Linked DNA regions of Homo sapiens: all the other regions are linked to region 1. Evidence: fine-mapped expression QTL. A gene starts in region 1. Each other region holds a variant in brackets. All regions are shown on one strand. Distances are between the middles of the regions.

Evidence for each region. PIP is the estimated chance that this variant, and not a neighbour inherited with it, causes the effect.
Region 2: its variant is fine-mapped to the expression of VPS9D1-AS1 in tibial nerve (GTEx, PIP above 0.99).
Region 3: its variant is fine-mapped to the expression of VPS9D1-AS1 in monocytes after R848 (Quach 2016, PIP 0.95).

Annotation. Positions count from the first base shown.
Region 1 is chr16:89,710,548-89,713,295 of GRCh38, reverse strand. VPS9D1-AS1 (VPS9D1 antisense RNA 1) reads right to left here and starts at 1,440. Exons shown (of 4, transcript NR_036480.1): 1 at 1,074-1,440; 2 at 478-607. It overlaps VPS9D1 (VPS9 domain containing 1), which reads left to right. Exons shown (of 15, transcript NM_004913.3): 5 at 580-691; 6 at 774-836; 7 at 1,197-1,249; 8 at 1,327-1,414; 9 at 1,884-1,969; 10 at 2,286-2,710. RefSeq lists enhancers at 449-548, 2,046-2,609 and a silencer at 1,189-1,608.
Region 2 is chr16:89,732,093-89,734,840 of GRCh38, reverse strand. ZNF276 (zinc finger protein 276) reads right to left here. Exons shown (of 11, transcript NM_001113525.2): 7 at 1,429-1,539; 8 at 1,284-1,359; 9 at 803-920. Among named protein-coding and RNA genes, the nearest start is that of ZNF276, 12 kb to the right of the region's middle. The variant G/A (reference allele first, on the strand shown) is at 1,191.
Region 3 is chr16:89,061,175-89,063,922 of GRCh38, reverse strand. LOC105371411 (a long non-coding RNA gene) reads left to right here and starts at 93. Exons shown (of 3, transcript XR_001752336.2): 1 at 93-744; 2 at 2,294-2,413. The variant C/T (reference allele first, on the strand shown) is at 1,671.

The DNA of each region.
Region 1 (2,748 bases):
GCGACAGAGCGAGACTCCGTCTCAAAAAAAAAAAGAAAAAAAGAAAAACCAAAAGTCCTGGCAATACCAAAACCTGTGTTTTCTTTCTTTTTGTTATTTTTTGTTTTGGTTTTGTTTTTTTGAGACAGAGTCTCACTCTATCACCCCAGCTGGAGTGCAGTGGCCAGATCTCGGCTCACTGCATCACCTCCCGGGATCAAGCTATTCTGCCTCAGCCTCCCGAGTAGCTGGGATTACAAGTGTGCACCATGCCCAGCTAATTTTTGTATTTTTAGTAGAGACAGAGTTTCACCATGTTGGCCAGGCTGGTCTCGAACTCCTGACCTCAGGTGATCCGCCCGGCCTTAGCCTCCTAAAGTGCTGGCATTAGAGGCGGGAGCCACTGCACCTGGCCAAAACCTGTGTTTTGGAAGGGCAGGCAAGAAGGGGCAGATGTTGCAGCCCACCCCAGATGGCTCCCCTCCTCTTTCTCCTCACCTCCTGGCCTCAGAGCAATCCGGGAGGATGAGAGAGACTCCTCTGGTGTCCAGACACCACTGGGCTTCCTGGGGTCTAGACAGCAGCTTGTCACATTTCCAGAGAGCTGACGCCACTGGAGGAGGCCTCCCTGCAGAATCAGAAGCTGAAGGCTGCGTATGAGGCCCGAATGGCGCGGCTAGACCCCAGCCAGGCCATGCAGAAGACATCCCTGGTGAGTGGGGGCTAGGGAGGGCCTGGGGGTGCGTGGGCGCGGGGCAGAGGGGAGTCGGCCTTACTCCCTCCTCCCCCCCCAGACCCTCTCTCTACAGCGGCAGATGATGGAGAACCTAGTGATTGCCAAAGCCCGGGAGGAGACAGCAGCCTTTCTGACCGCCCTGGTGGTCCCCGAGGGGAAACTCAGTGTGGCCTTGAGCCAAGGGCAGAGAAGGGGGCAGCGAGGGGAGCGGAGGTTCCGGGGTCGGGGTACAGGGCCGAGGGGCTCCCCGCTTTGCAGAGGCAGGGTCTCAGGGGAAGGCCCGGCCGCCGTCCCCCATGTTCTCTGGCCCGGCCCTCCTGGCTTGAGCGCAGGCTGCCTTCTGCCCCAGAAGCCTTACCTGGGGACAGCCCCTCACCGAGAGGAGGTCCCTGGGACGTCCCGGCCTCTCCGGGTGTGGGACGGGGTTGGGAACCGAGGGCCCGCTCAGATCCCACGCTCGGCCCCTTGACTCTGCACCCAGCTCCAGAGAAAGATGGAGGAGCGCCGGCTGCGGCTCCAGGAGGCCGCCAACAGGTGGGACTCCTGCCCGCCCCTGGGGCCGCTGCGGGGAGGGCCTGGCCCCGGCACCCACCGCGTGCCTTTCTCCCCAGGAGGTTTTGCAGCCAAGTCGCCCTGACCCCGGAGGAACGGGAGCAGCGGGCCCTTTACGCCGCCATCCTGGAGTACGAACAGGACCATGTGCGTCCCCCACGGGCCCAGGCTTTGTAGGAGGAGCCCAGCGAGGGGGGCGGGGTCAGAGCCGCCTGGGTGGGCCCCCGTGGGGGGCGGAGCCAGAGGCTGTGGGGGGCAGTGAGGGGGCGGGGCCAGAGGCCCGTGGGAGGGCCCGGTGAGGGGGCGGGGCCAGGGCTGCGTGGGGCGGGGCAGAGCGAGGAGGCGAGGTCAGGGGTCGCGTGGGAGGGTCCCAGCGAGGAGGGAGGGTCCCTGCGAGGAGGGAGGGTCCCAGCGAGGGTGCAGGCCCAGGGTTCGCCTAAGGTTTCCCTCGGGTGTGGGTGGGGGCGGGGGCGGGTCGCGGGGCCTGCTGGCGCTGGGTCTCCTGCACCCCAGGACGGGCTCCCACAGTCTCTAGGGGTCGGCACTGGTGGGAGATGAGGCGCGTCCGGTCGTGGCGGACCCACCGTGCTTTCCTTCAAGGCCCCCTGTCCCGTAGGACTGGCCGAAGCACTGGAAGGCCAAGCTCAAGAGGAATCCGGGGGACCTGTCACTCGTGACCAGCCTGGTCTCACACCTGCTCAGGTAGCTGGGCCTTCAGGCCCCACAGAGCCCCTGCGCACCGGCCTTGGGCACCTCTGCCTGGTGCCAGGTGCCGGAGAGGGGCTGGACTGACACAGGGAGCCTGTGCCCGGCCACGTGGACACTGCAGCTCCCTTTGCGCTGAGGGCGTTTCCTCGGCTTCTCCAACCTCCCCAGCGGGGGCGGGGGGCAGACTTTCCAACATTCACTGTCAGGAGGTAATGCAAGTCGCTTCTCTGAAACCGGGCATAGCGCGGCACCTGTGGATGCCACGGAGAGGCCGAGGCTGGCCGCGTTCTCACGTCCTCTTCTCCCGCAGCCTCCCCGACCACCCGATCGCGCAGCTCCTGAGGCGGCTGCAGTGCTCCGTGTACAGCGCCCTGTATCCCGCCGTGAGCAGAGCAGCCGCGCCAGCCCCAGGCTGCTGCCCCCCGACCCCCAACCCCGGAAGCCGACGGCTGCGGCCCTCGCAGAGCCTCCATTGCATGCTGTCCCCGCCCGAGCCCAGCGCAGCCCCGCGGCCCCAGGACAGTCCCCCCACGCCCCCACTCCAACCCGGCCCCGTGGGGTCTCCCTCACCCCTGGGGGACACCGCATCTGGATTGCCAGACAAGGACAGCTCGTTCGAGGACCTGGAGCAGTTCCTGGGGACGTCTGAGCGGCAGGGCCGGGGCCGTGGGGTACAGCCGGAGCCCCAGCTGCAGCAGCTGAAGACCGCGGTGGAGGAGATCCACAATGCCGTAGGTGAGGCCAGGCCCTCCCTGGGAGAGCCGCCGCAGCTC
Region 2 (2,748 bases), 22 kb before region 1:
ATAAAAGTAACTTGTGCATTATAGAAATTGTGAAAAATAAGACGGGCACAGAGACAGCACCCTCAGTCATAATTCCCCCATCCGCCTCCGGTCTTAATGACACGACCTACACACATGTGAAAAGGCAGAACCACACGTGCCTCCCGCCTGTCCACGTGGGCAGCTCCCCAGAGCTGGTGTGCCTTCATGCCTTCTGCCTTGCCTTTTAAGATACACTTGTTTGGGCCAGGTGCAGTGCTCACACCTGTAATCTCTGCACTTTGGAAGGCTGAGATCACTTGAGGTCAGGAGTTAGAGATCACCCTGGCCAACATGGTGAAACCCCGTCTCTACCAAAAATTACAAAAATTAGCCAGGCATGGTTGCGGGTGCCTGTAATCCCAGCTACTTGGGAGGCTGAGGCGGGAGAATTGATTGAACCTGGGAGGCAGAGGTTGTGGTGAGCCAAGATGGTGCCACTGCACTCCAGCCTGGGCAACAGAGCAGGACTCCGTCTCAAAAAAAAATTAAAAAATAAAATGACCAATTTGCAAAAGGACACCAAGATTGCTTGGCTATTAGTTTTGACAAACTGCCTAGATCCTGGGGAAGTCAGGAATTCCTTCCATCACAGGGAAGGGCAGATTCACACTGACGCCCTACTCTAGCCTTCATCTACCAACGTGACTGAGTACCAAAGACCCCATGAGCCACCTTCACGCACCCCCAACTCTTGGGGCGGGGATGGGTATGAGGAAGACTGGAAAGCAGGTCACGTGCCCCTGGCTGTCACCCGCGTGGGCGACACTGGCGATAGGCGTACCTGTGTGGATGAGCTTCACGTGGCGCTGCAGGTAGCGGTCGATCATGAAAACCTTGTTGCAGCCAGGGTGGGGGCAGGGCCGCTCCCGGACCTCCTCGTGGTGCTCCTTGATGTGCTTCTGAAGGAGAGACTCGGTGAGAGACCCTCAGAGCCGCACCCGGGCCACATGGCACGAGCCCTCAGTAGGTGACAGCTGAGGCCCCTGGAAGGCAGATCCAACTCCTCCTCCAGCGACACCACTGGCTCCTTCACAGCTTCACTCCAAGAAACTTCTAGACCCCCCGGGGGGTGTCTCAAGTGAAAGTCTGGCCTCACATCTACCCCCAAGGATGGCACTGGCTAGGACTGCTTCAGGTCTCGGTTAACCTAGGTCAAAGTGTCCTTGGGC[G/A]CAAGTCTGAGTTAGGCTGCAGAAACACCTGCTACCTCCCCCAGGTTCACACTGACAGCTGCCGGGCCTGGGTCAGGCACAGCCAGTGCTCACCTTCATGCCGTCAGCGCCTCGGTACACGGCCGTGCAGCCCTGGTAAGGACACTTGTAGATGGTGGGAAGCTCCTCCCTGCAATGAAGAGCATGCATGGAGCCCCGGCCCCGACAGGCAGGGCGAGCCTCGCGTTGCAGGCATCACCTCTCACAACGAAGCTTCTTCTTCCATCCGGGCTTGGGTCCCGGCTTCTTCCGAATTCTTGGTTCTTCAGACTTCTTGGCTTCTTTGCTTTCACTCTTCTTACCAGAGACTCTGAAAAAAAGAGGTTCCCAAATTCAATGGTTTCTGATCTCCATTTGCAAAATGTTTTTTGTCTCTCCAACCTGAGAAATGGTCTTTTCTGAAGCTTCCCTGAGTTGCTTCTGTGCTGACTGACCCTCAGAATCTACCTGAAGCCACCAAAGCCAGAGCAACTCTGGACAGGAGGCCTCAGGGGCGAGCACAGCAGAGGGCAAGGGCGCAGGACACAGCAGGGTCAGGGGTGAACACAGCAGAGGGCGAGGGCGCAGGGTACAGCAGGGTCAGGGCAAACACAGCAGAGGGCGAGGGCGCAGGGTACAGCAGGGTCAGGGCGAACACAGCAGAGGGGGAGGGCACAGCAGAGGATGAGGGCGCAGGGTACAGCAGGGTCGGGGTGAACACAGCAGAGGGCGAGGGCGCAGGGTACAGCGGGGTACAGCAGGGTCAGGGCGAGCACAGCAGAGGGCAAGGGCGCAGGACACAGCAGGGTCAGGTGAACACAGCAGAGGGTGAGGGCGCAGGGTACAGCAGGGTCAGGGTGAACACAGCAGAGGGCGAGGGCATGGTACAGCAGGGTCAGGGGCAAACGGCAGAGGACGAGGGCGCAGGGTACAGCAGGGTCGGGTGAGCACAGCAGAGGGCGAGGACGCAGGGTACAGGAGGGTCAGGGCAAACACAGCGGAGGGCGAGGGCACAGGGTACAGCAGGGGTGGGTTCTGAGAACTAAAGCTTCACCCTGTGCTACACATAAAACCCACAACTAGAGGTATCAGGACGGCAGAACAGGGATGTCCAAAGGACCACTCCTTTATCAAAACGACCTTACGCTAGGAAAAAGCTCAGAATCCACTCTCTCAAAATGGGTCAGCTTGATTCCAAGCTCAAGCCACCCAGGCAGGGCTTCAGAGGAACAGGTGATGCTCCCTGGGAAGCACACGGTGAGTAGCTGCCACCCCAGCATTCCTCAACCCCGCCTCCACTGCAGGGAGCCCAGCCTGTGTTCCTGGAGCTGCTGGCTGGGACCATGGTGGGCAGGAGACCTTGTCCTCCAAAAGTCTGGGGTCGTGCATTTTAGTTGGTCTGGCAAGTCCCTGAGGGACCAGCAAATGCAGCAGCTTCCAGTGTGCGTCTATCGGAGACTTAAAGAGAGAGACGCACTTGTGGTTCCTTTCTGGATCCAGGTAAGAATAGTTAAGGAAATATCTCAAGAACAGAAAGGAA
Region 3 (2,748 bases), 650 kb after region 1:
AGCGGCTGGGAAACTCCCAGGGGCCGGGCCCTCCTCACCCAGTCTCCCTTCCTCCTTCTCTGGACTGGCCTGGCTGGACCACACCTGGGGCCGTGGCCACCTGTGCCCCCTTTTCTCAGCCTGTTCTTCTTTGGGCCTCCTGGGACACTCAAGCACCCCAGGACAAGTCAGGGCCAGCAGACTCCGCCTGCAAAGAGGGCCCCCATCGCAGAAGCCCTTGGAGACGTCAGCCCTTACGGTGCAGAGGGGAGATGGAGCCACCGTGCAAAGGATGCTCCAGCCTCACAGCCAGGAGGCTGGATAAGGCCGAGTGCACCAGGCCCTTGGGCAGCCCAGTGGGCAGAGCCCAGAAGAGGGGGCCACACGGCCTGGCCTAAGGAGCAGGGTGGGGACCCCGCACCAGGCAGACACCGTCAAGCCTCCTCATGCCCCCTTGGCCTTCCCTTACTTGTCTGGGGCTCCCTTCCTGCAATCAAAGAGCCCCTGGCACCTCCAGCCCTTGGGCCAGGGGACCTGGACCCCACCCCCATGCGTCCCTAGAAGCTAAAGGGACCCTGTGGAAGGGGGCTGGACTTAGGCTTCTTGCCCCCCAGGTAGGCATCAGGGGAGCAGGGCAGGTCAACGGCTGCTCAGAAGCCTGGCAGGGTTTGCAGGGCGTGGGCTGCCCCAAGCTCATCTGCACAGAGCGCTGACTTCCGGCCCCAGGACCAGAGCAGGAGACATGGCCGGGGAAGAAGAGCAAAGGTAGAAAGTGAAGTGCCGGCGGGGACGGGGGTGCTGGCCCAGGAGTCATGTGTGCTGGCCTGGGAGGGTAGAGAGCGGGGCGCCGGCGGTGGGGGCAGGTGGGGGTGCTGGCCCAGGAGGCAGTGCGCTGGCCTGGGAGGGTAGAGAGTGGGGTGCTAGCGGTGGGGGGCAGGTGGGGGTGGCCCAGGAGGCACGTGTGCCAGCCTGGGACCCAGGGGTTGTGGGACTGTCCCTCCAAGCCAGGGGTCCTGGCTTTGTCCTTGAATCAACTCATGCTGTCAGGAGCAGCCAGGCCGCAGGGGTCAAAGGTGACCACAGGCTCCAGCAGCTTTCCTGGGCCCAGAATCCCCGGTCCAGGATGGGCCTGGAGCGTGACCACCACCATAAGCCCCCAGACACACTTCATCCAGCCACCCTTGAGGGCGGGTCCCGGGTAGAGAGGGGCTCCCCGTTTCCCTTTGGGCCCTGTGTTTCTATGGGGGCACCCAAAACCCAGCGTTTTTTGGCTTCTCTGCAGGCCTCAGTGCATACCTTCAGCAGCCCCTCAAGCCCTCCCGCCCTGTCCTCTCCCCAGCTCCCACTGACCTCACTCCCTCCCCTGCCCCTGCAGCCCTCCTGCCGCCATGGCCGCCCCGCTCTGTCACCCTCCTCTTGTCAGAACCCATCCTCGTCCACAGCCCGTCCTTCCCACCGTCTCTGCTCTGGGCTCTGGGACCCTGCTTGGTCCCCGCCATGCCCCTTAATTGTGGGGTGTCTCAAACACTCCTGTGATTCTCACAGCCTTTTTGAGGCTGGGTGGTCCCAGACCCCCACCACCACCAGGAGACCCTGCAGCTCCTCAACCTCCCCTTGTCTGTGGGTCTCCATCAGCTTTGGGTCCTTGGGCCAGGTTGCCTCATTCCCATCACCCCGCCAAGCCTGGGCCC[C/T]GGGCTTCACCCCTCACCCCCTGCCCTACCTCGCTCCAGGCTGGACACAGCCATGCCCTCATGGGCTCCCCCTGCTCTGCTGATCCTGCTGTCTCCATGGCGATGGAAGCTTTGGAGAGCTGGGGCTGAGCCCCTGGAGGCCTAAGCTGGAGTTGGTGCACAGTCCCTCCCGGAAAACTGCAAGTTTCCCACTCCTTGTGGGGGAGCAGCAGGGCCCCTGTGTGGGCATGGATGAGGGGTTCCCACTCCTCGTGGGGGAGCAGCAGGGGTGAGGGGTGCAGGGACGGGGCCACCTTTGCAAGGAATCTCCCCACCCACCCTGGGGCTTCACGCTCCTCACCGTGGGGGTGGAGGCTGGAGGTCAGCATTTCCCCCAGTGCCCAGCATCCCTTCGCCCTTTCGGTAACCAGACCTTGAAAATCACTACGAAACTTCCTGGGTGCAGGTGGCCTCAGCTGTTAGCCCAGGGCCCTGGCAGGAGGCTGCTGGCCCGTCTGGCCAGGTGTTGGCCACTGGCCCGTGGAAGCCAGGGATTGGTTAGGGGAGCTGCTCCTAGCTGCTATTTTACTTCTTCATAGTTTTCGATCATAAGGTATTTTTCTCCTCTTAAAACTTCTCCCCAGGTGGCTCCTGTAATTCATTTGGGGGCGTGAGGTGAAGACGGGGCCAGCGCCCCTGGGGCAGCTGAGACCAGGGCGGGGAAGACCATAAATCAGGCAGGAGCCAGTGCCCGGTGCCCCAAGGTGAGCACATGGAGGGACAGTGACTGCTGGTCCTGGGAGCGAGCACAGAGCCCACGGGAAAGCGAGGAGCTCAGTAGGAAAGTGAGGAGCCCACCAGGAAAGCGCGGAGCCCAAGGGAAAGCGCGGAGCCCACTGGGAAAGCGAGGAGCCCACGGGAAAGCGAGGAGCCCAGTGGGAAAGTGCAGAGCCCGCGGGAAAGGAAGGAGCCCACGAGAAAGCGCAGAGCCCACGGGAAAGGGAGGAGCCCACGGGAAATCAGGGCTGCACTGCACACCAGTTCAGATGCTTCCAGTGTCCGCTGGGCGCCGGTCCGTCCCAGAAGAAGGTGGGTGCTC